Homo sapiens: one gene and its partners. The protein of the gene in region 1 purifies or fractionates together with the protein of each later gene. This does not show direct contact. Each region holds a gene or a part of one and is shown in the gene's direction. Other genes may lie near its edges.

Region 1 (3,500 bases):
TTGGTCCCTGCTCGGGTGTGTGTGTGTGTGTGTGTGTTTGTGTGTGTGTGTGTGTGTTGTGTGATTTCTTCTGCAGCCTCCAGAGTCAGGAGTTTTTGTTTTGTTTTGTTTTTTTGAGACGGAGTCTCGCTCTGTCGCCCAGGCTGGAGTGCAGTGGCGAGATCTTGGCTCACTGCAGCTTCTGTCTCCCGAGTTTAAGCAATTCTCCTGCCTCACTCTCCTGAGTAGCTGGGATTACAGGCATCCACCACCATGCCTGGCTAATTGTTTTTGTATTTTTAGTAGAGACGAGGTTTCACCATGTTGGCCAGGCTGGTCTGGAACTCCTGACCTCAAATTATCCGCCTACCTTGGCCTCCCAAAGTGCTGGGATTACAGGCGAGAGCCACCGCGCCCGGCCCCAGTCAGTAGTGTTTTGCTTGCTGTGTTTGAGATAGGGTCTTGCCCAGGCTGGTTCATGGCTCACTGCAGCCTCTAACTCCTGGGTTCAAGCAATCCTCCCACCTCAGTCTTCCAAGTAGCTGGGACTACAGGCATGCACCACCACACCTGGCAAGATTTTAGATTTTTTTTTTTTTTTTGAGACGGAGTCTCGCTCTGTCGCCCAGGCTGGAGTACAGTTGTGCAATCTTGGCTCACTGCAGGCTCTGCCTCCCAGGTTCACGCCATTCTCCTGCCTCAGCCTCCCAAGTAGCTGGGACTACAGGCGTCTGCCACTATGCCCGGCTAATTTTTTGTATTTTTAGTAGAGACGGGGTTTCGCCGCATTAGCCAGGATGGTCTCAATCTCCTGACCTCGTGATCCACCCACCTCGGCCTCCCAAAGTGCTGGGATTACAGGCGTGAGCCACCGCACCCGGCCCAAATTTTTAGATTTTTTTGTAGAAATGGGGTCTGACTATGTTGTCCTGGCTGCTCAAACTCCTGGGCTCAAGCAATCCTCCTGCCTCAGCCTCCCAAAGTGCTGGAATTACAGGCCTGAGCCACTGCACCCAGCCTGGGGTCAGCATTCTTAGGTAAAGCAACTGAGCAGTGTCCCTGCAGGATCCTTGGAGGACTCAATGGATGGCCGGAACCAAAACAGGACGTGAGGGTCCCTGGTGCTGGGTCCCTCCGAAGCTCAGTGTGTGTACTTGGACTTTATACCCTCGTGCACAAATATGCATGACCCAAAATGACCCCAAGCGTCCATTTTGGTGGGTGCAATGTACATATTCTTCCCCTGGGGACAGTTGAGCTATCCTGGTATGTTTCTACCAGATTACATACTGGTGACCCAGGCAGACTGGGATATTTGTAGTCGGGTTTCTTTTCTCTTCTCTTCTCTTTTTTAGAGACAGGGTCTTGCTCTGTCGCCCAGGCTGGAATGCAGTAGTGCAATCTTGGCTGACTGCAACCTCCGCCTCCCGGGTTCAAGGGGTTTTCGTGCCTCAGCCTCCCGAGTAACCGGGACTACAGGCACCCTCCACCATGACTGGCTGTTTTGTATTTTTATTTTTATTTTGTTTTAGTTTTGAGACAGAGTCTTGCACTATTGTCTGGGCTAGAGTGCAGTGGCGCAATCTCAGCTCACTGCAACCTCTGCCTCCCAGGTTCAAGCGATCCTCCTGCCTCAGCCTCCCTAGTAGCTGGGATTACAGGCACCTGCCACCACGCCCAGCTAATTTTTTGTATTTTTAGTAGAGACGGGGTTTCATCACGTTGGCCAGGCTGGTCCCTAACTCCTGACCTTGTGATTTGCCTGCCTCGGCCTCCCAAAGTGCTGGGATTACAGGCGTGAGCCACCGCACCTGGCTAATTTTTGTATTTTTAATAGAGACGGAGTTTCACCATGTTGGCCAGGCTGGTCTCGAACTCCTAACCTCAAGTGATCTGCCCACCTCGGCCTCCCAAAGTATACTTGGCTTTTTGCTTAGGGCAGGGAGTGTGAATGAGCATGAGGGCCAGGCCATGGTGCGAAGGACCCTGTGCTCTGGGCACCCCCTTGCATGGATCTGGGTCTGGGTGAGTCACTGCCTGAGTCAGGGAACCCATGACTTTTTTTTTTTTTTTTCCCGAGACAGAGTCTCGCTCCGTCTCCCAGGCTAGATTGCAGTGGCACGATCTCAGCTCACCACAACCTCCGCTTCCCGGGTTCAAGCGATTCTCCTGCCTAGCTGGGACTACAGGTTCATGCCACCATGCCCGGCTAATTTTTGTATTTTTAGAAGAGACGGGGTTTCACCATGCTGGCCAGGCTGGTTTCGAACTCCTGACCTTGTGATCCGCCTGCCTTGGCCTCCCAAAGTGCTGGGATTACAGACGTGAGCCACTGCGCCTGGCCCAACCTATGACATTTTACACTTGCATGGTGAGTCCCCGTGTGGGCAGGCTGTACCCACACCCTTGCCTGCCTATCTGATTCCCCAGACTGAAGTGGGGGCCTCTGAGGGGGTAAAAGGATGTGGTCTTTCGGGACTGCTTGGCCTTTAGCTTGGTGGGTGGAGCCTGTATCCTACCTTGTTTTAACCCAGGAGTCACCCCAAAATATGGGGGGGACACAAACTGAAAAGGGAGGCTCAGACATGTCAGAACCATTGGCTGAGTCGTGGGTCAGGGGACCAGGGTTTCCCTAGATTCTTCCTGGGGAGATGGATGGGGAGCCAGAGATAACTCCCTGATGGGCAGATGCCCTCCTTCTTGGCCCAACTCCTGTCCCGTTACAGATTATCTTTGTCTTTTGTTTTGTTTGTTTGAGATGGAGTCTCACTCTGTCACCCAGGCTGGAGTGCAGTGGCACGGTCTCACTTCACTGCCACCTCTGCCTCCCCGGATCAAGACCCTCCCACCTCAGCCTCCAGAGTAGCTAGGATTACAGGTGTGTGTCACCACACCTGGTTAATTTTTTGTGTATTTTTAGTAGACTCTGGGTTTCACCATGTTGGCCTCACTGGTCTCGAACTCCTAACCTCAAGTGATCCACCTGCCTCAGCTTCCCATAGTGCTGGGATTACAGGCATGAGCCACCGCGCCCAGCCCCAGTTACAGATTATCTATCTGGACAAGGACAGGAGGCTCCCAGGAGTGGGGGAACTTGGATGTTGGCAGAAGTGGGCTGGTCTAAGGTTCCCCACCTTCCTTGTTCCACCTCCAGCCTCTGGGGAAGTAGGTACCTGCCTGGGAGAGTGACATCTCAGCTCATGCCCCACGCCCCAGTGTGATTTGTGGCTGGCCTGTCTGTATCTGTAATAGTGATAGCTTGGTCTAAAAGGAGACCCTGGGAACAGACAGAGTGGGCCGGCCAGGAGCCTGACAGCACAGCCCTAGCCTGGTCGCAGATGTCACCTGACAACTTTCCATTTGCAAATCCTCCTTCCTCCTCGGACATCCGGACACCCCATTGCCCCCTCTCAGAGCCCAGGTCTCTGGTTTCTGCCTGTGATTCTGGGCTGTAGCCCCTTTAGAAACTCAGGTGTCCTGGTCACCTCCTACCCCCAGGGCTGACTAGCCTTCAGCTTGGC
Region 2 (3,500 bases), on another chromosome or scaffold:
ACTTGGAAAATCTCTTTTCTAGATTAAATATAAGACACCTCAACCTATAGGAGAAGTATATTTTGCAGAAACTTTTGATAGTGGAAGGTTGGCTGGGTGAGTATTCATTCAAGAGAATGTTTTCTTTGATTTATTAGCTTTTTTGAAGTTATTAGGTTTTGGCCTATGAAAATTATCTCTACTACAGATCTATAAAAAATTTTAAAGTAGTTTAATTGACAATGTAAATCAGTACTTAGTATATTTTTGTAATTGATAGAATGTTTAATTTGAATAGTTATTTATTCAAAGAAAATATACTAATTCCGAATGCAAAGATGAAATTTATAACATTTCTTTATTCTCTAGGACAGATTAACACTCTTAAGTTCAGATGACAAATATGAGTACTGCTCTACTCTAAATAATGGAAAAAACAAAAGTTAATATTAAATGATTATTATGTGTCAGATGTCCTTAAAAAAAGTAGATAATTACCATATTTAATCCCCATTTTACAGGTGGAGAAACCGAGGTTTCTTGTACCTTACCTGTGATCATACAGCTAGTAAATTATAGATTCCAAATTCGGTTTAACTCTAGCCCTTCAGGATTATGTGTAGGCATCCTTATTTAGCATCTAAGTATGAATTTATTGTTGAATGAAAAGTGACTGTATTGGGTGATCTTTTATTGTGTTTCTGTATGCCTTATATCTATAAATTGCTGCTTTTATTGTCAATGACATATATGTATGTTCAACTTTATTTACAGATGGGTCTTATCAAAAGCAAAGAAAGATGACATGGATGAGGAAATTTCAATATACGATGGTAAAATATTTATTTAAGTATTAGATATAACCAGTATGGCCTGGAGTTCACTAAACTTTGAGATTAGATTTTTGTTAAATTGTGTTGGCTGGAGTCCCCCACCCTGCCTCACAATAAAATGTTCAGTCTTTTATCTTGTCCCTCTTCAATATTTCTGAAAAACCCTTCGCTATTTCTGAAAATCTCACTCTTAAGCCAGTTAATCTAGTTTTCTAACTGAACAGTTGAATTTTCACTCTACTGCTGTTAGTCTTTTGCATTTCCTGAAGCAGTATTTCCCAGGCTACTGCTGTCTCTATGGTTTCATCTCAAGCATAGACACACCTTGATCTATAAATTAAATAAATTATAATTTATGGTAAGATTCTCCTAGCAAGTAAAAAGCAGAAGATAGCTAATGAGAGCTACAAGATATGTGGCTGCTTCTGGAATCCTCATCTCCAGGTCTATATCCATTATCATAGGGTGTCTAATAGGATTATCTTCAACCTTAGCTCTAGAAAGAAATGTCCTATAGGCAGGGGTCATATTGTCTTCCCTAATAGGACTACCCTAGAGTATGACCAAATATTTTCTTCTTTGTGGTCTAAAAACCAGCCTCCTTGATTGTTATATGCTGAAGCAAGATCAGCCTCTTCTCACAGTGACTGATAGTGGTAATTTCTTCTTTCTCAGAGGACCTCATACTCATAAACATGTGGCCCTGCACTCAGACTCTGATAAGCAGTTACATCACAACAGCAAAACAGATAGCATGTTGGATGTCAGCTGTCTGCTTCCTTTTCATAGTTTCTGTTTAGTGTAAGATAAAGATCATACCTGCATGTCTTCCTTTGCATGGTGTTCGCCATCCCAGCAAATCCCCTGTGTATATATATACACATATATACATATATACACAAATATATATACATATACACATATATGTGTGTATATATATGTGTGTGTGTGTATATATATATATATATATATATATGCTTATCAACTCCAAAAAGGACACCACCATATGCACAGAAAAAGCAGTAGTGGGATTTCTGGATCAAATAGTAGATCTACTTTCAGTTTTTTAATAAACCTCCATGCTGTTTTCCATAGAGGCTGTATTAATTTACATTGCACCAGCAGTGTATAAATGTTCCCTTTTTACCACATCCATGCCAATTGTTTTTTGACTTTTTAATAATGGCCATTCTTACAGGGGTAACGTAGTATCTCATTGTGGTTTTAATTTGCATTTCCTTGATGATTAGTGATGTTGAGCATTTTCTAAACATGTTCGTTGGCCATTTCTATATCTTCTTTTGAGAAATGTCTATTTATGTCATTTGCCTACTTTCTGATGGGATTAATTTTTTTCTTGCTGATTTGTTTGAGTCTCATGATTCTGGATACTAGTCCTTTGTCAGATTCATAGGTTATTAATATTTTCTCCCACACTGTGGGTTATCTGTTTACTCTGATGATTATTTCTTTCGCTGTGCAGAAGCTTTTTAGTTTAATTAGGTCCCATTTATTTATTTTTGTTTTTGTTGCATTTGCTTTTGGGTTCTTGGTCATGAATTCTTTGCCTAAGCCAATGTCTAGAAGAGTTTTTCTGGTGTTATCTTCTAGAATTTTCATGGTTTCAGATCTTAGGTTTAAGTCTTTAATCCATCTTGAGTTGATTTTTGTATAAGGTGACAAGTAAGGATCCAGTTTCATTCTTCTATATGTGGCTTGCCAGTTTTCTCAGTACCATTTATTAAATAGGGTGTCCTTTCCCTAATTTATATTTTTGTATGCTTGGTCAAAGATCAGTTAGTTGTAAGTATTTTGCTTTATTTCTGGTTCTTTATTCTGTTCCAGTGGTCTATGTGTCTACCTGAGACCATTACCATGCTGTTTTGATAGTATGGCCCTGTATAATTTGAAGTCAGGTAATGTGATGTCTCCAGATTTGTTCTTTTTGCTTAGGATTACTTTGGCTATTCAGGCTCTTTTTTGGTTCCATATGAACTTTTGGATTTTTTTTCCTAATTCTGTGAAAAATGTTTTTGGTATTTTCACAATAATCACACTGAATCTGTAGATGGCTTTGGGCGCTATGATCATTTTCATGATATTGATTCTTCCAATCCATGAGCATGGGATGTGTTTCCATTTGTTTGTGTCATCTATGATTTTTTTCAGCAGTGTTTTGTAGTCCTCCTTGTATAGATAGATCTTTCACCTCTGTTAAGAATATTCCTAGGGATTTTTTTTTTTTTTTTTGCAGCCATTGTAAAAGTCATTGAGTTCTTGATTTGATTTTCAGTTTGGTCGTTGTTGCTATGTAGCAGTACTACTGATTTGTGTACATTGATTTTGTAAGCTGAGACTTTTATTGAATTGATTTTTCAAGTCTAGTAGTCTATTGGATGAGTCTTTTGGGTTTTCTAGGTATGCAATCATATCATTAGCAAACAGTGATAGCTTGACTTCCTCGTTTCCAATTTGTATGTCCTTTATTTCTTTCTCTTGCCAGATTGCGCTGGCTAGGACTTCCAGATAAAGTTGTTACTTCTTAAAATAAGACCTTTATAGGGGGCGAGAGGCAAACTACAAGTTAGTGATAATACAATTCACCATCAATGTGAGAGAAAGAAAACCAAGTACATTAATCTTTTTCAAAAAAATATAATATGACCAAATCAGGGGGAGAAAGAAAAG
Region 3 (3,500 bases), on another chromosome or scaffold:
CGCCTAGTCACAGCAGGTGGACCTCGTGCTCATCAGAGCATGCCAATCCTAAGCCATTGGACATATGTAGACTGGTTTTTGTTGTTGCTATGTACATATAAATATATATATAAAATGAACATAGTTCATGCTTTCAGATAAAATGAGTAGATGTATATTTAGATTAATTTTTTTAGTCAGAACTTCATGAAATCCACACCAAAGGAAAGGTAAACTGAAATTTCCCTTGGACATATGTGAAATCTTTTTGTCTTTATAGTGAAACAAAGCCAGAGCATCTTTGTATATTGCAATATACTTGAAAAAAATGAATGTATTTTTTTCTCCAAAGAACAGCATGTTTCACTCAATGGTGAAAAGGTGGAAACATTTATGTAACTTTATGTGTATCTGTCTTGATATCTACTGACATTGTCTATATGAGGAAAATGATTACTGGTCATGCTCCTGTGAGTTTTTTGGGAAGGTAGGGTCATTTCTCCCTGCCTGCTTTGTGCCAACTAGCATGTTGCATCTACATGCATTATGAGTCTGGTTAGGCATTACTTTAAACATACATAAAGAGACAGTAGGACATTGTGGCTGAGTCTACCCAGCTCAAGGTAAAGGAGAATGTTGCTAATTTTTTAGCAAACTAGACCAGCATTATTACTCAAACTAAAAATATCACACCTGAAAAATTTAATTTAGGACCTAAAATGTCTAGATTAGCTTTCTGCTTTTTTTATTTGAATAACTCATTCAGTTGTGAATGAATTCCTCTTTATTTGGTGCCACAGTCACCAAATGACAAGGATTTGCCACTTTCCCACCAAATTGTGAGTGCTTGTAATTTAGGTCTCTCTACCTTAAATTCAGTATAAGGAAACGTAATTATGATTGATTTTTTCCAAAGATGACAAGCTGTGTTGAAATACATTTTTTCTTTTGACCAATTGACAGAATCTAATAAGCTTTAATAATCTTCCCCTTTTATGTGAAAAGTTTTGAGAACTGTGAAATGTTTAGGAACAAACTGTTGAAATCCATTGGAAGGGAAAAAAGAAAGTGGTACCAGTGTTACCAGCTCAACTAAAACCTGCAATTCTGCATTTCAACTCTTCACTTCCTCAGCCTACAAATAGCTCATTAGATGACATTCACGCATGCTGGGTATAGGCAAGGAAAGTAATTTTCAAAGTACATTTGCAGTTCTCTTTTTCAGAGATGATTCTATGATAGTGCCTCTGAAAGTTGATGCAGCATTTTTGCCTTTCCAAAAAGTATTTATCCTCACTGCTTTTTGCAGTACTTGTATTTTCACAGATGGATTATCTGGGGTAATTTTCTTCAAAGGGAGTTTGTTATACACAGTGAAAATGTATTATAGAGTAGAATAGTAAAGCTCTAGGGGTTTCAGAAAGCTTTGATGAACAGATGACAAACATCTGAAACCCCCTCCGCACTGTTACCCAGTGTGTATATAATGACTTGTTATAGCTCAGTGTGCCCTTGAATCCATACAGTTTCTTAAAAGACAATAAAATCTTATTAATAAAGTTAATGTAACTTCTAAGTTCTAGAAAATGCTGATTCTGTCTGCCCCATTCAATTGGGGGCTACTAATTGATTTGTTGCTTGGATTTCCTGAGAATTTCTCTATTTGTAGGAGGGGTTTTTTCTTTTTACGGTCTGTTGATGACAATTACTTTATGGGTGTGATGCACCGATGGTAGCCAAGGAATCTGTTGGGGAAGTTCGGAAAGAAACCTTTTCTTTCTTTTATTCAGTTTAAAGTAAACTTTATCCTGGATGTTTAGAATCAACATTAAGAGTTATATTATGGTGTTCAGAGATTAAGCTGACTTGGATACAATATTTTCTTTTGAAAATGAATTTTCTTTTTCATTTGTGATTTTTAAAAAATGTTGCACCAGTTATGCTTCATGCATCGTTACATCTTCATCAGGTTAATGTAATGTCTAGTTCCTTTGCAATAAATATATTGCTGCAGCTTTCTTGACGTATACTGTTACTTTTCGGGAGAGAAGCAGCTCTTGGTTAGAGTCTTTTACTGCAGGGGTCCCTGGGTACCTGTCTGTGGCCTGTTATGAACCAGGCTGCACAGCAGTGGTGGGCATGCGAGCAAGCATGACTGCCTGAGCTCTGACTCCTGTCAGATCAGCCACGGCATTAGATTCTCATAGGAGCGCAAACCCTATTGTGAACTGTGCATGCAGGAGATCTATGTTTTGTGTTCCTTAAGAGAATCGAATGCCTGATGATCTGTCACTGTCTCCCATCATCCCCAGATGGGATCGTCTAGTTGCAGGAAAACAGTCAGGGTTCCCACTAATTCTACATTATGGTGAGTATATAATAATAATATGGTGAGGATATAATAATAATAATAGAAATAAAGTGCACAATAAATGTGCTTGAATCATTGAATCATCCTGAAACCATCCCCTGCCACCAGTCTGTGGAAAGATTGTCTTCCATGAAACCAGTCCCTGGTGTCAAGAAGGTTGAAGACCGCTGCTTTACAAGATCTGCATGGTGAAACCCCATCTCTAGGGAAAATACAAAAATTAGCCAGGCGTGGTGGTGTGCATCTGTAATCTCAGCTACTCAGGAGAGTAGGAGAGGCATATATTGCTACTTATAGGAGGCTGGAGAATAGTTTGAACCTGGGAGGCGGAGCTTGCAGTGAGCTTGCAGTGAGCCATCATGCCACTGCACTCTAGCCTGGGCCACAGAGTGAGACTTTGACAAAAAAAAAGAAAAACAAACAACCAAACAAAAAAGATCTGCATGGTTTGGATTGTACCTACTTAAAATTGCTACACAAATAATTCTTCCTAATAGAGTCAGACAACAAAGATAATTTAGGAGACATTTATGTAAGTACATTGTTACCATTTTTCAACTTACTTTCTCAATGGAGACTTTTGAAAGAAAAATATAAGCAACCACATTGACAGATTTGCATTCTACCCTTTTATTTTCCAGGCCCCCTCATAGATAGCAAGGGAGAGAGAGCCACAAGAAAATACAAAATTTTCCAACTGGACGCAGATAATTAAGAATTAAGGACATTTACTGATGGATGTGATATGAATGTTTTTATATAAAATATGCATCTCTTGGAGTATTCTCATGTATATTTGTAATCCAATAAAAATACACTGTATCTTCTTGCTAACTTTAGGACTAACACTTTTAACTATTTTTTGCTTAATGTAGTAGTTAAGCATTTTGAGAAGGAGGCACTGTAGGCTTAATAGTACAGTCTCTTAATATCCATGTTGACTTTTACCCATTTTGTCACTATTTCACCAATTATTTTTTCACAGTACCAGATTAGGAGTAAGAAATCTACCATCTGATGGCATGAAGTATTTAGTCCTTCTACCATGATGTGACACTCTCATTATATTACTCATTAGCTGTGATATAATGAGAAAAGCACGGGATTTAGGGTGAGAAGTTTTATATCTGTGTCTTGGTTCCACCACTTT
Region 4 (3,500 bases), on another chromosome or scaffold:
GGGATATGTTCTGAGAAATATGTTGTCAGGCAATTTCATCAATATGTGAACATCATAGAATGTACTTACAGAAACCTACACAGTATGTCCTAGGCTATGTACACCTAGCCTACATGGTATATACCCTGTTGCTGCTAGGCTACAAAATACCTGTACAGCATGTTACTGTACTGAATACCATAGGCAATTATAACACAATGGTATTTGTATACCTGAACATTTCTAAATATAGAAAAGGTACAGTAAAAATATGATATTAAAGATGCTCCACCAGCTGGCTGATATGCCTATAATCCCAGCACTTTGGGAGGCTGGGGCAGGTGGACTGCTTGAGTCCAGGAGTTTGAGACCAGCCTGGGCACCATGCCAAAACCTCGCTTCTATAAAAAGTACAAAAATTAGCTGGGTGTGGTGGCATGTGCCTGTAGTCCCAGCTACTTGGGAGGCTGAGGTAGGAGGATCACTTGAGCCTGGGAGGTCAAAGCTGCAGTGAGCTGTGATTGGGCCACTGCACTCCAGCCTGGGCAACAGCGAAACGCGGTCTCAAAAGAAAATAAGGTGCTACACCTGAATGCAGCTTATAGGACAACTTATAGAGGTTGTTCTAGTTGAGTGAGTGGTGAGTGAATATGAAGGCCTAAGACATTACTATACACTACTATAGATATTATAAATACTTTACACTTAGGCTACACTGAATTTATAAAAATAATTTTTCTTTCTTGAATAATAAATTAACCTTAGCTTACTGTAACATTTTAAATTTACTTTTTAATTTTTTTAACTTTTTGATTCTTTTCAATTCTTTTTTTTTTTTTTTGAGACAGAGTTTCGCTCTTGTTGCCCAGGCTGGAGTGCAATGGTGCAGTCTTGGCTCACCACAACCTCCGCCTCCCGGGTTCAAGTGATTCTCCTGCCTCAGCCTCCTGAGTAGCTGGGATTACAGGCATGTGCCACCACGGCCGGCTAATTTTGTATTTTATTTTATGTTATGTTATGTTATGTTATGTTATGTTATGTTATGTTATGTTATGTTATTTTTTGAGACGGAGTCTCGCTCTGTCGCCCAGGCTGGAGTGCAGTGGCGCGATCTCGGCTCACTGCAAGCTCCACCTCCCGGGTTCAGGCCATTCTCCTGCCTCAGCCTCCCGAGTAGCTGGGACTACAGGCGCCCGCCACCACGCCCGGCTAATTTTTTGTATTTTTAGTAGAGACAGGGTTTCACTGTGTTAGCCAGGATGGTCTCGATCTCCTGACCTCATGATCCGCCCGCCTCTGCCTCCCAAAGTGCTGGGATTACAGGCGTGAGCCACCGCGCCTGGCCTATTTTATTTTTTTTAAAGACAGGGTCTTGCTCTGTCGCCCAGGCTGGAGTGCAGTGGTGCAGTCTTGGCTTCGTTGCAACCTCCGCCTCCTGGGTTCAAGTGATTCTCCTGTCTCAGCCTCCCAAGTAGCTGGGATTACAGGTGTGTGCCACCATGCCCAGCTAATTTTTGTATTTTTAGTAGAGACAGGGTTTCACCATGTTGGCCAGGCTGGTTTCGAACTCCTGACCTCAGGTGACGTGCCCACCTCGGCCTCCCAAAGTGCTGGGATTGCAGGTGTGAGCCACTGCACCCAGCCTAATTTTGTATTTTTAGTAGAGATGGGGTGTCTCCATGTTGGTCAGACTGGTCTTGAACTCCAGACCTCAGGTGATCCGCCCGCTTTGGCCTCCCAAAGTGCTGGGATTATAGGCATGAACCACTGCGTCCAGCCTGGATATTTTTAAAGTGAGGTTAATTGAATGGGTATAACGGTCTTAAGTTTGTCAGTGATTGTTTAGTAGTGATCTTGAACACATTTCAATTTCTTTGTTTCTCCTTAACTCATCTGTTTATCTTTTATTATAATTTGTAATTTTTCTTATAAATTAGAATGATTAAGTATATCTCAGAATAAAAGACCAGTTTTGGCCAGGTGTTATGACTCACACCTGTAATTCCAGCACCTTGGGAGGCTGAGGCAGGTGGATTGCTTGAGCCCGGGATTTTGAGACCAGCCTGGGCAACATGGTGAAATCCCATCTCTACAAAAAATTGCAAGAAATTATGGGCCAGGTGCGGTGGCTCATGCCTGTAATCCCAGCACTTTGGGAGGCCGAGGCAGTGGATCACCTGAGGTCAGGAGTTCAAGACCAACCTGGTCAACATGGCGAAACTCCATCTCTACTAAAAATACAAAAATTAGCTGGGTGTGGTGGCACATGCCTGTAATCCCAGCTACTCAGGCACCTGAAGCAGGAGAATTGCTTGAACCTGGGAGGCAGAAGTTGCAGTGATCTTAGATCATGGCACTGCACTCCAGCCTGGGCAACAGAGCAAGACTCCATCTCAAAAAAAAAAAAAAAAAAAAAAAAAGCCAGGTGTTGTGGTGTGCACCTGTAGTCCCAGCTACTCAGGAGGCTGAGGAGGGAAGATCACCTGAGTCTGGGAGGTCGAGGCTGCAGTGAGCTGTGATTATGCCACTGCACTCTAGCCTGGGTGATGAAGTAAGACCGTATCTCAAAAAATACCAGTTTTTATGATAGAATTTACTTAGTTGCAGAAGAGGGGTGGCAAGGGGAATGTTAATTTGGCTCACTGTTTCCTGAACCTGAAAGAACCAAAGAATTAGCAGTGTAGTGTCAAAAGTTAAATAAAATTTCTTTTTTGTTTAGGAAAATAAAAATATAAACATTTTAGATTATCATTGTTTATCTTCTAGAGGATCTCTGGGAAAGTTTAGAAAATGCTAGTGGTAAACCTATAGCAGCTGTGATGAATACCTGGACCAAACAAATGGGATTTCCCCTCATTTATGTGGAAGCTGAACAGGTAAACATATAAAGTCTTTCCATTTGTCTGATATTGTATTAAATGAAGTTCAGTACAGTGTATCAAGTTTGCTTTTCTGTACTTTAAGTTTTCTAGTGACATTTAAACCAGCCCTGTTACTCTTTTATCAGTAATTTTACAGCTTGCATCATTAAAATTATACATGCTTAAGAGAGAAAACAAAATGTTACTTGCTTGTCTAGTCTCCAGGGAAAATACTGTAAAATTTGATATAATTCTAAAACCACCAAATATGGTTTATTCTACAAATGCAAGGTTGGTTTAACATTTTTTAAAAAATTAGGCCGGGCGTGGTGGCTCACGCCTGTAATCCCAACACTCTGGGAGGCCGTGGCGGGTGGATCACTTGAGGTCGGGAGTTTGAGGCCAGCCCGGCCAATGTAGTAAAACCCTGTCTCTACTAAAAATACAGAAATTAGCTGAGCATGGTGGCACACACCTGTAATCCCAGCTACTCTGGAGACTTAGGCAGGAGAATTGCTTGAACTCGAGAGGTGGAAGTTGCAGCGAGCCGAGATTGTGCCACTGCACTCCAGCTTGGGCAACAGAGCGAGACTTCGTCTCAAAAAAAAAAAAAAATCAATGTATTGATTTATAATCACTACATAAACAGAATCAAATGCA
Region 5 (3,500 bases), on another chromosome or scaffold:
AGAGGTTGTTGACTAGAATACTTCTCAGAGACAATAATAGAGGAAATGCTGTCTTTGATTCTCTATCTACAACCTTCTGTTTCATACTGAGGACAGACAACTTCTGAGGAGTCCTACATAAAGCATCTACCTTGAGGATTCATATGAATTAATGGCATATTTTTATTCCAGAAGCCTGAATTGCAAGACAAATGTAACTTAAATTCTTTTCTACCTTGAAAGAGTATAGAATCCCATTTATATAAGAAGCAGAGGATTCCATGTCCTAAAAAAACATGAGTTTAATACATAAATTTTCTCATGTTAGAATTAAATATTATTGGATATAAGAAAACAAGAACCACAAGACATAATTTTAAGGTCACTCTAGCAAAAATTTCTTGCTGTATTCATTGTCTCATGAGAAGTTGGTAAATCTTAACAACAGTCTTAAGCATTAGTCTAAATAAAGAAACTTTATTGTACTTAGCATCTAGAACTTTCAATATATCAGAGATTATCTTTTATGAGATAGGGACTATCTAGGATTTAAATTAAAAATAACAGTTCATATTTGTATATTTACAATGTACTCTGGAGCACAGTTTTACCCTCAAACCTCACAAAAACCCAGGAACTATTTGGGATGCTCCTTTACATAGCACAGAGCTGAACATGAGACAAACCCTCAATAAGTATTAGGGGAATGACACAACAAGTGAATGGGCCTTTGTGTAGTTGACGCCAAGTAATAACAAATAGGTTTCAGAGTCTTACCTGTTCATTCATGCCATTGGATAGGCTATATGAAGTATGACACAGGGATGGATAATAGGCCAAGTGTAAGCTCAAAGGTAAAGTATCTCATGGTGGACAAGGATATCTGCCATGCTCACAAGATGAGTAACGACAGCATTTTTGCCAATACCTGCCATCCCTAACTTAGAGAAGACTTTGTTTGCAGCACAATCTGTCCACTAAACTGCTGTCAGCTGTCAGTTGGTTAAGCTGTCAGTCTGGCAGTTTCTAATCCTTAAGAATAGGAAATAGAAGTTTAAAAAAAGTAAAAAGTAAAATAAACTTAAAAACAGAACATAAATAAAATACTTTACAGAAAGGGCTATGATAAAATAATTGCCAAAAGCAAAGCAAAACCTTTAGCCTGAACTAAACCAACGATAAGCAGATATCAAATAACCGAAGACAGACAGTGGTTCTCCAAACTCTACAAACTCTAGAAACTCTATCAGGAACACAAATCATCTAGGGATTTTGTAGAACTGCAGACTCTGATCCAGTAGGTCTGCCTGAGCCCCATAAGTCTACATTTCTAACAAGCCCTCAGGTGATACTGGTGCTGATCTGTTGGTCAGCAAATAACATTTTGAGTAACAAGGCCCTGGTCAACTGAGAAATCAAACAGAGAAAGGCTGAGGACTTCTTACGGGTTTGTATAAATGCTCAAATGTTGTCACGGGAAAGGATTACGCTCCTTGCCATGTGCAAGGAAGGAAATGGCATTCTGAAATCAAGTAAGAGAAATTTCTGCTTATCACCAAATATGGGGAATTCATTCAACCCAAAATACTTATTGAGCACTTATTGTTTGCCAGGCACTATTCTAGATGTTGGGTAAACAGCAGTGAACAAAACAGACAAAAAGTTTCTAACCTCATGGAGCTTATATTCTACTTGGGGAAGACAAGCCATAAACAAAATAACTGACTATGTAATGCAGAAAATTTGGGAAGAAGGAATTTTAGGAGGAGGTAGAACAAGGATGTGATTTTAGATAGGGTAGCCCAGTGGAAAATGGCATTTGATTAAAGACCTGAAGTGGGTGAAAAAGCCAACCATGCAAGCAGAGGAAACAGGGAGTTCCAAAGTCTGGAGTAGGGTACACTTGCCTAGTGTGAAGAATAAGGAGGCTAGCATGGCTGGTAGAGAGTGAGATGGGAAGAGAGGAGCAGGAGGTGATACTAGAGAGTTAGAGGAGGGTGAGGCTGCATCAGGTCTCATGGGCTTTTGCAGAGCCTTAGTTTTACTCTGAGTGACATGCAAAACTTTAGTACATGAAGTCAGTACAAAACCTCAGAAAGATGCCGTCTCTTCCCACACACTCTTGCTTTCCATCATCCATAATGATTTGGAGAAAAAAAATGAAACTTCTAAAATATCTGAATGGCATCCATAAATATTTACTTAAAGTCACCTACAGCTTAAGAAGGATACAAACACTGATAAACATGACCTCTAACTTCAAGGGGTATATGACTGTCAGAGGATACAAGATAGATTGGTAATAATAGCCAGAGCAGGAGTTGACAAACTTTTCTGAAAAGGGCCAGATAACAAATATTGTAGGCTTCTGTGGGCCTGTAATAAGTGGTCAACTTGGCTGAGGTAGCTTGAAAGCAGCTACAATAAACGAATGGGCATGGTTATGTTCCAGTAAAACTTTATTTACCAAAACAGGCAAACTACATTTGGCCCACAGCCTTAGTTTGCTAACTCCCAGTCTACAGAGACAGTGAACAAGGCAATATGGCATGTAAAAACCTGATATTTCATTTACAAAATAATCATAAAATTAACCCAACATTATTCATGAGTTTGCAAAAAATATTTATGTTTCATTGAAACATGTTTGCATGTTTGTGTGCATGCAAAATACTATGCTAAATTATTTGTCATTTTAATTATTTTTTCTAAAGAACATCATGTGATAGATACTATTACTTTCTCTCTTTTAAAGATAGGAAAAGTAACAGAGAGGTTACATAACTTACCCAAATTCACATAACTTGTGAATGGAGAAACAAAATTTTAACTTGCCTTGATCTATTTGCCTATCTTCTGCCTTTTCTTCTATTATCTGGGATGGACTAAAATCAACCCAATATATTCTAAGACCAACCCCTCAACTTGTACACTAGATCCCATCCTCTCCCCTAAGCAAGGAGATTCCTGCAATTATCCTGCAATTATCTACTCTAAATCTAAATATCAGCAATTTTTCCTTCTCTCTATTGATTGTTCCTACTAGCACATAAATATGAGGTAATATCATTTATATGTTTGTTTTCATACTCCACTGATCTTATGGCTCCCATCATGGTCCATTTGAAAAAGTTGCCTCTGTACATCTTCACTTCTTTTCCTGTTCTGTCTTAAGCCTACTCCAAGCAGACTTTGCCCACATCATTTGGATGAAACCACATTTGTCAAATTGTACTCAAAATGGCCAGGCGTAAGGGTCAGCTTTCAGTCCCCATGATAATTATGTCTAAATTGTATTTGACATGATCAGTCTCCTACTTAAAGAGTTTTTTCTTTTTCCTCAACTCCACTCTCCTGATTTTTCTCCTACTTCAATGACGACTCCTTGTTGGTCTCCTTCTCCAGACACATCTCCTCTTCCTGATCTCTAAATGTCAGAGTCTCCCAGGACACCATCTTCTTACCCTTTCTCCATCTATGAGCACAAATCCAGTTGCTCAAGCCAAAAAAAACTTGAAATC
Region 6 (3,500 bases), on another chromosome or scaffold:
AATGAGACTAATGTACATTCCCTGTCTGACAACACAGAACGAACCAGGAAGAAAGGATTTATGGGGCCTGAGGTTATACAATTGGGGGTGCTATTTTAAGAAAAATAATAGAAAATTGGATACAGCCTTGGGAGGGGCCCCTCATGTAAGTAAGGCTTTAATAGTTTCTTGGGAAATCACCTCTGTATGAAGAGATGTGTTGACATTTAATCTTTTCCCAGTTACATTTTAAAATAAAATTGATGCTAGTTATATTTCTTTAGAGCATTTATTATTTCTCAAAGACAACCTTTTATTTAATGCAGATTAGAGAGTTAAAAGAATTTATAATGGTAGGAATTTGACATTTCTGCCTTTCATTCTGAAAAGATACATTGATTAAAGTGATGTCAAACTCAGTTAATGGAGGCGGTGCAGTTATTTGAAATATACAGGGTATATAATTTGAAGGCACGCCAAATCACAATGACAAGGAATAATGATGACCTTGGTTTATTTTTATACAGTACATTCAGGTTTTGATTGGATTCAGAGAGAGGCAATGGTTTTCTTTCTCACAAAGTCCTGCTATAGTCCTAGGAGGTTTGTGTTCTGTTATCAAGGCAGTTGGTTCGTATTGGAATATTTTCTGGGGAAGGTCATGGGCTGCAGTGTGGGAAATAAACGTTTTTATTAAATGCAACCAGGTTTCATGAAAATATTTCCCCTTGTAGAGTGTGCTCAATGCAGTATACTGATCTTCAAAAAACAAACAAACCAAGCAAATAAATAGTTTGTAGTCTTCACCTTTTCCCTACGTAAAACATCTATTAGTTAGACTTCCTTGGGGTTTCATGCTATAAAATATTGACATATGTTTGGAGTTCTGAAGTTTCATTTTAATACAGATATCAAAGTTAAAATGGCAACACCATGGGATAATTTATTATTTTACCAAGTTTGGAGGGTTTTTTCTATTTATGTCACTTATAGAATTGTCCCTAAAATCCTTGCAAAATTTCAAGCTCCCTCTACTTAATACTAAAAGTGAATGTGTCTTCCAGAGATTCTGATAACCCCTTCGAATGGGAGAGTAACTCTGCTATTTGTGAATCACTCCTATACTAAATATAGTTCCAAGATTAAAAGCTAAAATGATTTTGTTTATTTTTTCATGAAATTTTTTCATGAAAGGCTTGATAGTATAAAAAGTCTGTTTCCCTCATATATTACAGCATATTATAGCATTCAATGTGCCTTCTTAAACCAGATGGCTCCTCTAGAGATTATGAAATACTTTAACACCCAGGGCATAGCCTTTCTGTTTCCCCATTCAAGATTACTTCCTTGAATATGGCCCAACAAAAAGACCAAAAAAATACATTTGGCTCCAGCGTTTTAAGGGCATATAAATTTTCTTAAGCACAATTCTGATAGGCAGCAGACAAATGAGAATGAGGAAGGGAAATGGCTCTGCTGTCTTATGCTTAAAAGTGTCCTCATATAGAGAGAAACAACACACCCTGGGGCCTTTCGGAGGGTAGAGGGTTGGAGGAGGAAGAGGATCAGGAAAAGCAACTAATGGGTACTAGGCTTGATACCTGGGTGATGAAATAATCTGTACAGCAAACCCCTATGGCACAAGTTTACCTATGTAACAAACCTGCACTTGTAGCCCTGAACTTAAAAGTTAAAAAAAAATAAAATAAAAAGAGTCCTCATCTCACGGCCATACAACCTCTACCTCATTCCCATTAAAAACACAAAGATCAGTACTCCCTCTTTTATAGCTCACATCTTCTGTTTAGGCTGCCATTTTAAGGGATAATTTCTATTCAACTCTGAGCTCGATCTTTATTTTAATCTGATATCACTCGTTCAAAATACTTGGGAATTTCAGTAGGCAACGGAACACACAGAGCAATTTTCTGGAGGCCTACAACCTCTGAAGGTGACTTTGCGTAGTATATGTAATGATAGTAAGCCCTGAGAAAACCAATGTTCTTAGTAGTCTGGATTTGGTTTAGAAATCAATGTATTCCTGCTTTCTTTTGTGATCTTTTGCCTTCTCCCTCAATGCCTCACTTTCACTCTGTCATTATGAACCCCATTCCTCACTAATGGGAACTGGGGGAGAATGGACAATGATCCTTTAATTGAAATGGAGTTGTCATTTCCTTGCCATGCTGATAAAATGTTGTTGCTGTTGTTGTTTGTTGTTGTTCTTAAATGACTCTTTCAGAATTTTTAACTCAGTATTTTGATTACATACCATTTTAAGAAAATAATTGTCCATAAATTAAAAATGCTAGCAAATTGATGAATTGATTTTCTCATGCCAATTTGGAAATCTGAAATATATCTAAGACTGGTGAATAATATGTAGGTCTAATTGCCATTTGAATAAAAGAATCTGAGGAAGAGCTTTGCCTTTATTTTTGTTTATTATTCATTTTAGTTTAGTTATTTATTTTAGTAGAAAAATGTGGTTGTGTCAACGAAGAGGAGGTACATTAAAATGCATTATTAAAGCCAATGCTTATCCATGTAATGAAATGAGAATGTAGATGGCTTAATGGGTTTTGGAGAGGATTAAGATAATTTTAAAGAAACTTCAAAAAATCAGATGCTCGAATCATGATGTTTTTTGTTTATATTTAATAAATATGAAAACCATACATGGGCATATCAACAATGAGGAATTCACATATATATCACGAAGTCTCTTGCTAATTTGTCAACTTTTAAATGTGTTGTCTTCACTATCATGAAAATTTTGATTTTTAAAAAAGGTCAGTGTTAGCTGAGCACAATTACCATTACGGTGTCCCATATTATTTCCAATTATGGGCAAATAAAATGCTTACCCTTTAAATGTTTTTACCCTCTTCTTGGCTTTTGTTTTGTTTTGTTTTAAAGCGTTCTCCCTTCTTCCACTCTGCTTTTGGCTAAGACTGTCATGGAATCAGGACTATAAAAGGGCATAAACATCAGTAGCTTTTTTCTCATTCCTGGCACTCATCTTTATTTGCACTCAACTTGTCTCTTCCTTTATCAGATTACGGTTGCAATAGTACCTTAGCCTGAGCTAAGTGCTGACTTAAAGGGCAAGGGAGTCAGTACACTGTTACAAGTGCAGATTTTAGCCTTGGAAGCTGTGTGAGGAAAAATTAAAGAAATAAGAAAGAAAAATCACAAAATCAGAATGGCCCACGTATTTTCATCAAAGGCAAATTGAGTAATTCCTTTTTATGTTGGTGCTTAAGAACGATGTATTAGAAATAAATTGGTGACTAAGTGAACAAAATATTAATAAACTAGTTGAGTAAGTGAAAAAATAATAATCTGTAAAAATGATGAATCCCAATGACTCACATGTTGCAAAATAACTAGGAAGCAAAAGGGAAATTAGACTTTAAAGAGCGTAATCAGATGCAAGAAATGTTGGCTTGTAGGTGGTTAACTAAAATCGCTTACGGGAAGCTCAGACAGCTGGGGAATCCTGATTTAGTAGACGCTGA
Region 7 (3,500 bases), on another chromosome or scaffold:
GTATTCTTTTGACTCTTTTTTTACTTATTCTTTCTTTCTCTTATTTAATAATCTTTTCTTTCCTTTGTAATTTATTTTGTGAAATTTCCAGAAAGACTTTGGTTCTGTCTGCATCACATTATAAAACATAATAAAGCATTTCTATTTACAAGCAAGTTTCAGGATAAAGTAGTCTTATTTTCAGATTTTTTTTTTTTTTTTGAGACGGAGTCTCGCTCTGTTGCCCAGGCTGGAGTGCAGTGGTGCGATCTTGGCTCACTGCAACCTCCACCTCCCCGGTTCAAGTGATTCTCATGCCTCAGCCTCCCAAGTAGCTGGGATTACAGGTGGCCGCCACCACACCTGGCTAATTTTTTTTAAGGGGCACTGCTATCTTTCCTCAGAAAAAGAACAAAACTGTTTGGGTAGTATTTTTTTTCATGTTTCATTAAAATCAGGAATGGTTTGACGGTTTGTAAAGTAGGTAGTGAAAAAGATATGAATTAGATTCCATTTTGTTTGGTGTTTAGCCAAGTAGGAACTGTTCATTCATGTGTTTCATAACATTATTTAGAATATAACTCAGAATTGTATGTTGGGAGATTTATTTTGAAATATGTACTTCTTTTCCCCTTTTCAATCCTTGAAAGGAAAATATTGTAATGGGAGAGTTGTTCCTACTGATTTTTATTAGAGATGGGGTTTCACCATGTTGGCTAGGCTTGTCTCGAACTCCTGACCTCAAATGATCTGCTGGCCTCGGCCTCCCAAAGTGCTGGGATTACAGGTGTGAGCTACTGTGCTTGGCCTTTTTCAGATTTTAAAATACGATGGAAATGGTTGTGGTGTTTTAAGGTGTAAAAAAAGAAAAAAATACTCCGGGCCTGGTGGCTCACGCCTGTAATCCCAGCAGTTTGGGGGGCTGAGGTGGGCGGATCACCTGAGGTTGGGAGTTTGAGACCAGCCTGACCAACATGGAGAAACCTCGTCTCTACTAAAAATACAAAATTAGCTGGGCACGGTGGTGCACGCCTGTAATCCCAGCTACTTGGGAGGCTGAGGCAAGAGAATTGCTTGAACCCGGGAGGTGGAGGTTGTGGTGAGTGGAGATCGCACCATTGAACTACAGCCTGGGCAACGAGCAAAACTCCATCTCAAAAAAAAAAAAAAAAACTGGTGGGCACAGTGGCTCTCACCTGTAATCCCAGCACATTGTGAGGCCAAGGCAGGAGGATGACTTGAGCCCAGGAATTTGAGAACAGCCTGGGCAACAAAGCAAGACCCCACCACTACAAAAAAAAGTACACGCGCACACACACACACACACACACACACACAAATACAAATGCAAACTGTATTATGCTATGGTCACAGGATTGATCTTTTTTAGCTTTTATTTTTCTTGCTCTGAAAACTGAAATTTTTCTTTAAATTGGAGTAGAGCGTTAGTATTTTTTGTTGTTGTTGAAACAAGAGTGTCGTTCTGTTTCCCAGGCTGGAGTGCAGTGGCACGATCTTGGCTCATTGCAAGCTCTGCCTCCTGGGTTCTTGCCATTCTCCTGTCTCAGCCTCCCAAGTAGCTGGGACTACAGGCGCCCGCCACCACGCCCAGCTAATTTTTTGTATTTTTAGTAGAGACGGGGTTTCACCGTGTTAGCCAGGATGGTCTCAAGCTCCTGACCTCGTGATCCGCCCGCCTCGGCCTCCCAAAGTGCTGGGATTACAGGCGTGAGCCACCACGCCCAGCCTTTTTCTTGTTTTTGGTTTTTTTTTTTTGCTTTTTTTGTTTTTGTTTTTGTTTTTGTTTTTGAGACAGAGTCTCACTCTGTTGCCCAGGCTGGAGTCCAGTGGTGCGATCTCGGCTCACTGCAACCTCTGCATCCTGGGTTCAAGCACTTTTCCTGCCTCACCCTCCTAAGTAGCTGGGATTACAAGCGTGCCTCACCACACTGGCTAATTTTTTTTTTTTGAGACGGAGTTCCACTCTTGTTTCCCAGGCTGTAGTGTAGTGGCGCGATCTCAGCTCACCGCAACCTCTGCCTCCTGGGTTCAAGCGATTCTCCTGCCTCAGCCTCCCGAGTAGCTGGGATTACAGGCATGTGCCACAATGCCTGGCTAATTTTGTATTTGTAGTAGAGATGGGATGGGATTTCTTCATGTTGGTCAGGCTGGTCTCGAACTCCCAACCTCAGGTGATCCACCCGCCTTGGCCTTCCAAAGTGCTGGGATTATAGGCGTGAGCCACCGCGCCCGGCTCACACTGGCTAATTTTTGTATTTTTAGTAAAAATGGGGTTTTGCCGTGTTGGCCAGGCTGGTCTCGAATGCCAGACCTCAGGTGATCTTCCTGCCTTGGCCTCCCAAAGTATTGTGATTACAGGCATGAGCCACCACGCCTGGTCTAGAACATTAATATTAATATATTAAAATGTGAACACTAATTATCTAGCGTAGATGATGGAATTAGGAGTATTTTTCCCCCTTTGTCCTGGTGCTACTATCAGTTGTAATTTCAAAATAATTTAAAAATAGGCTGGGTGCTGTGGCTCATGCTTGTAATCCCAGCACTTTGGGAGGCCGAGGCAGGCAGATCACCTGAGGTCAGGAGTTTGAGACCAGCCTAGCCATTATGGCCAAACCCCGTATCTACTAAAACTACAAAAGTTAGCCGAATGTGGTGGCGGGTGCCTGTAATCCCAGCTACTTGGGAGACTGAGGCAAGAGAACTGCTTGAACCTGGGGGGCGGAGGTTGCAGTGAGCCGAGATTGTGCCACTGCAACCCAGCCTGGGCGACAGAGTAAGACAAACAAAACAAAACAAACAACAACAACAACAAAAAGATTTAAAAATAAATTTGATAAATTGGAGTAGGATATTCTTATTGAAACTCATTAATACATAGTATTCTTGTTAATAGGTTCAGTTTAATAGGAAAGCTACTAGAGAACTCTAATGAAATGTGTTTTCTTTTAAGGAAACTTACATGCTTGCTGTAACTTTGGATGAATGGAAAAAGAAACTGGAATCTCCCAACAGAGAAATTATTATTTTACACAATCCAAAGGTAAAACAAAGCATTTCTCTTGTCGGGATAAAAAGTTAATTGCGCTATTAGGGAGAACTCAATTGGTTTCTTTTGCTAAGCACTCTGTGTAGGATAACCTTTGTCAAATTTTATATTGAATTCACAGTTATGAAACTTAAAAACTTGTAGCCACTACTGTTATTTACCCAACTCAGCTTATACAAAATAATTTTCTTATGGAAAATTATGCCACTGTAGAATAAGAAAATCACTGACATATTATGTGAGCATGTCTTCCATGTAGAAAGGGACTATTGACAGATCTGTTAGCCTAATATATTTTCACGGTTCTCATTTCAAGCCATACGAGTTGTATATCAAAACTCCAGTTCAGATTTTACTGTGTGGTTTGAAAGACATGATTCTACACTTAAAACTGCATTGTATAGAGATGATTGTATTGCAGAATATTTTTATTGCTCTGATCTGTTCTGTT

The links.
Region 2: the proteins of LRRC8E (region 1) and CLGN purify together in Homo sapiens (co-immunoprecipitation; one large-scale study listed by IntAct). This does not show direct contact.
Region 3: the proteins of LRRC8E (region 1) and TBC1D4 purify together in Homo sapiens (affinity purification with mass spectrometry; 2 studies listed by BioGRID and IntAct, with this or other methods). This does not show direct contact.
Region 4: the proteins of LRRC8E (region 1) and NPEPPS purify together in Homo sapiens (affinity purification with mass spectrometry; 2 studies listed by BioGRID and IntAct, with this or other methods). This does not show direct contact.
Region 5: the proteins of LRRC8E (region 1) and OPRPN purify together in Homo sapiens (affinity purification with mass spectrometry; one large-scale study listed by BioGRID and IntAct). This does not show direct contact.
Region 6: the proteins of LRRC8E (region 1) and DMD purify together in Homo sapiens (affinity purification with mass spectrometry; 2 studies listed by BioGRID and IntAct, with this or other methods). This does not show direct contact.
Region 7: the proteins of LRRC8E (region 1) and DDHD2 purify together in Homo sapiens (affinity purification with mass spectrometry; 2 studies listed by BioGRID and IntAct, with this or other methods). This does not show direct contact.

The regions. Positions count from the first base shown.
Region 1 is NC_000019.10:7,891,510-7,895,009, forward strand, and holds part of LRRC8E (volume-regulated anion channel subunit LRRC8E), read left to right. Parts: intron 1-2,063; exon of another isoform or gene 2,064-2,350; intron 2,351-3,010; exon of another isoform or gene 3,011-3,500. UniProt on the Homo sapiens protein: Non-essential component of the volume-regulated anion channel (VRAC, also named VSOAC channel), an anion channel required to maintain a constant cell volume in response to extracellular or intracellular osmotic changes.
Region 2 is NC_000004.12:140,407,149-140,410,648, reverse strand, and holds part of CLGN (calmegin precursor), read left to right. Parts: intron 1-22; coding exon 23-96; intron 97-753; coding exon 754-812; intron 813-3,500. UniProt on the Homo sapiens protein: Functions during spermatogenesis as a chaperone for a range of client proteins that are important for sperm adhesion onto the egg zona pellucida and for subsequent penetration of the zona pellucida.
Region 3 is NC_000013.11:75,283,170-75,286,669, reverse strand, and holds the end of TBC1D4 (TBC1 domain family member 4), read left to right. Parts: 3' UTR 1-3,167; downstream 3,168-3,500.
Region 4 is NC_000017.11:47,593,608-47,597,107, forward strand, and holds part of NPEPPS (puromycin-sensitive aminopeptidase), read left to right. Parts: intron 1-2,745; coding exon 2,746-2,855; intron 2,856-3,500. UniProt on the Homo sapiens protein: Aminopeptidase with broad substrate specificity for several peptides. Involved in proteolytic events essential for cell growth and viability. May act as regulator of neuropeptide activity.
Region 5 is NC_000004.12:70,400,940-70,404,439, forward strand, and holds part of OPRPN (opiorphin prepropeptide isoform 1 precursor), read left to right. Parts: intron 1-3,500. UniProt on the Homo sapiens protein: Opiorphin is an endogenous inhibitor of neprilysin and aminopeptidase N. Inhibits the breakdown of substance P, Mca-BK2 and Met-enkephalin by neprilysin in vitro with IC(50) values of 29 uM, 33 uM and 33 uM respectively.
Region 6 is NC_000023.11:33,205,050-33,208,549, reverse strand, and holds part of DMD (dystrophin), read left to right. Parts: intron 1-3,500. UniProt on the Homo sapiens protein: Anchors the extracellular matrix to the cytoskeleton via F-actin. Ligand for dystroglycan.
Region 7 is NC_000008.11:38,234,585-38,238,084, forward strand, and holds part of DDHD2 (triacylglycerol hydrolase DDHD2), read left to right. Parts: intron 1-2,953; coding exon 2,954-3,043; intron 3,044-3,500. UniProt on the Homo sapiens protein: Diacylglycerol (DAG) and triacylglycerol (TAG) lipase required for proper lipid homeostasis in the central nervous system. It cooperates with PNPLA2/ATGL in neuronal TAG catabolism and hydrolyzes sn-1,3 DAG downstream of PNPLA2/ATGL.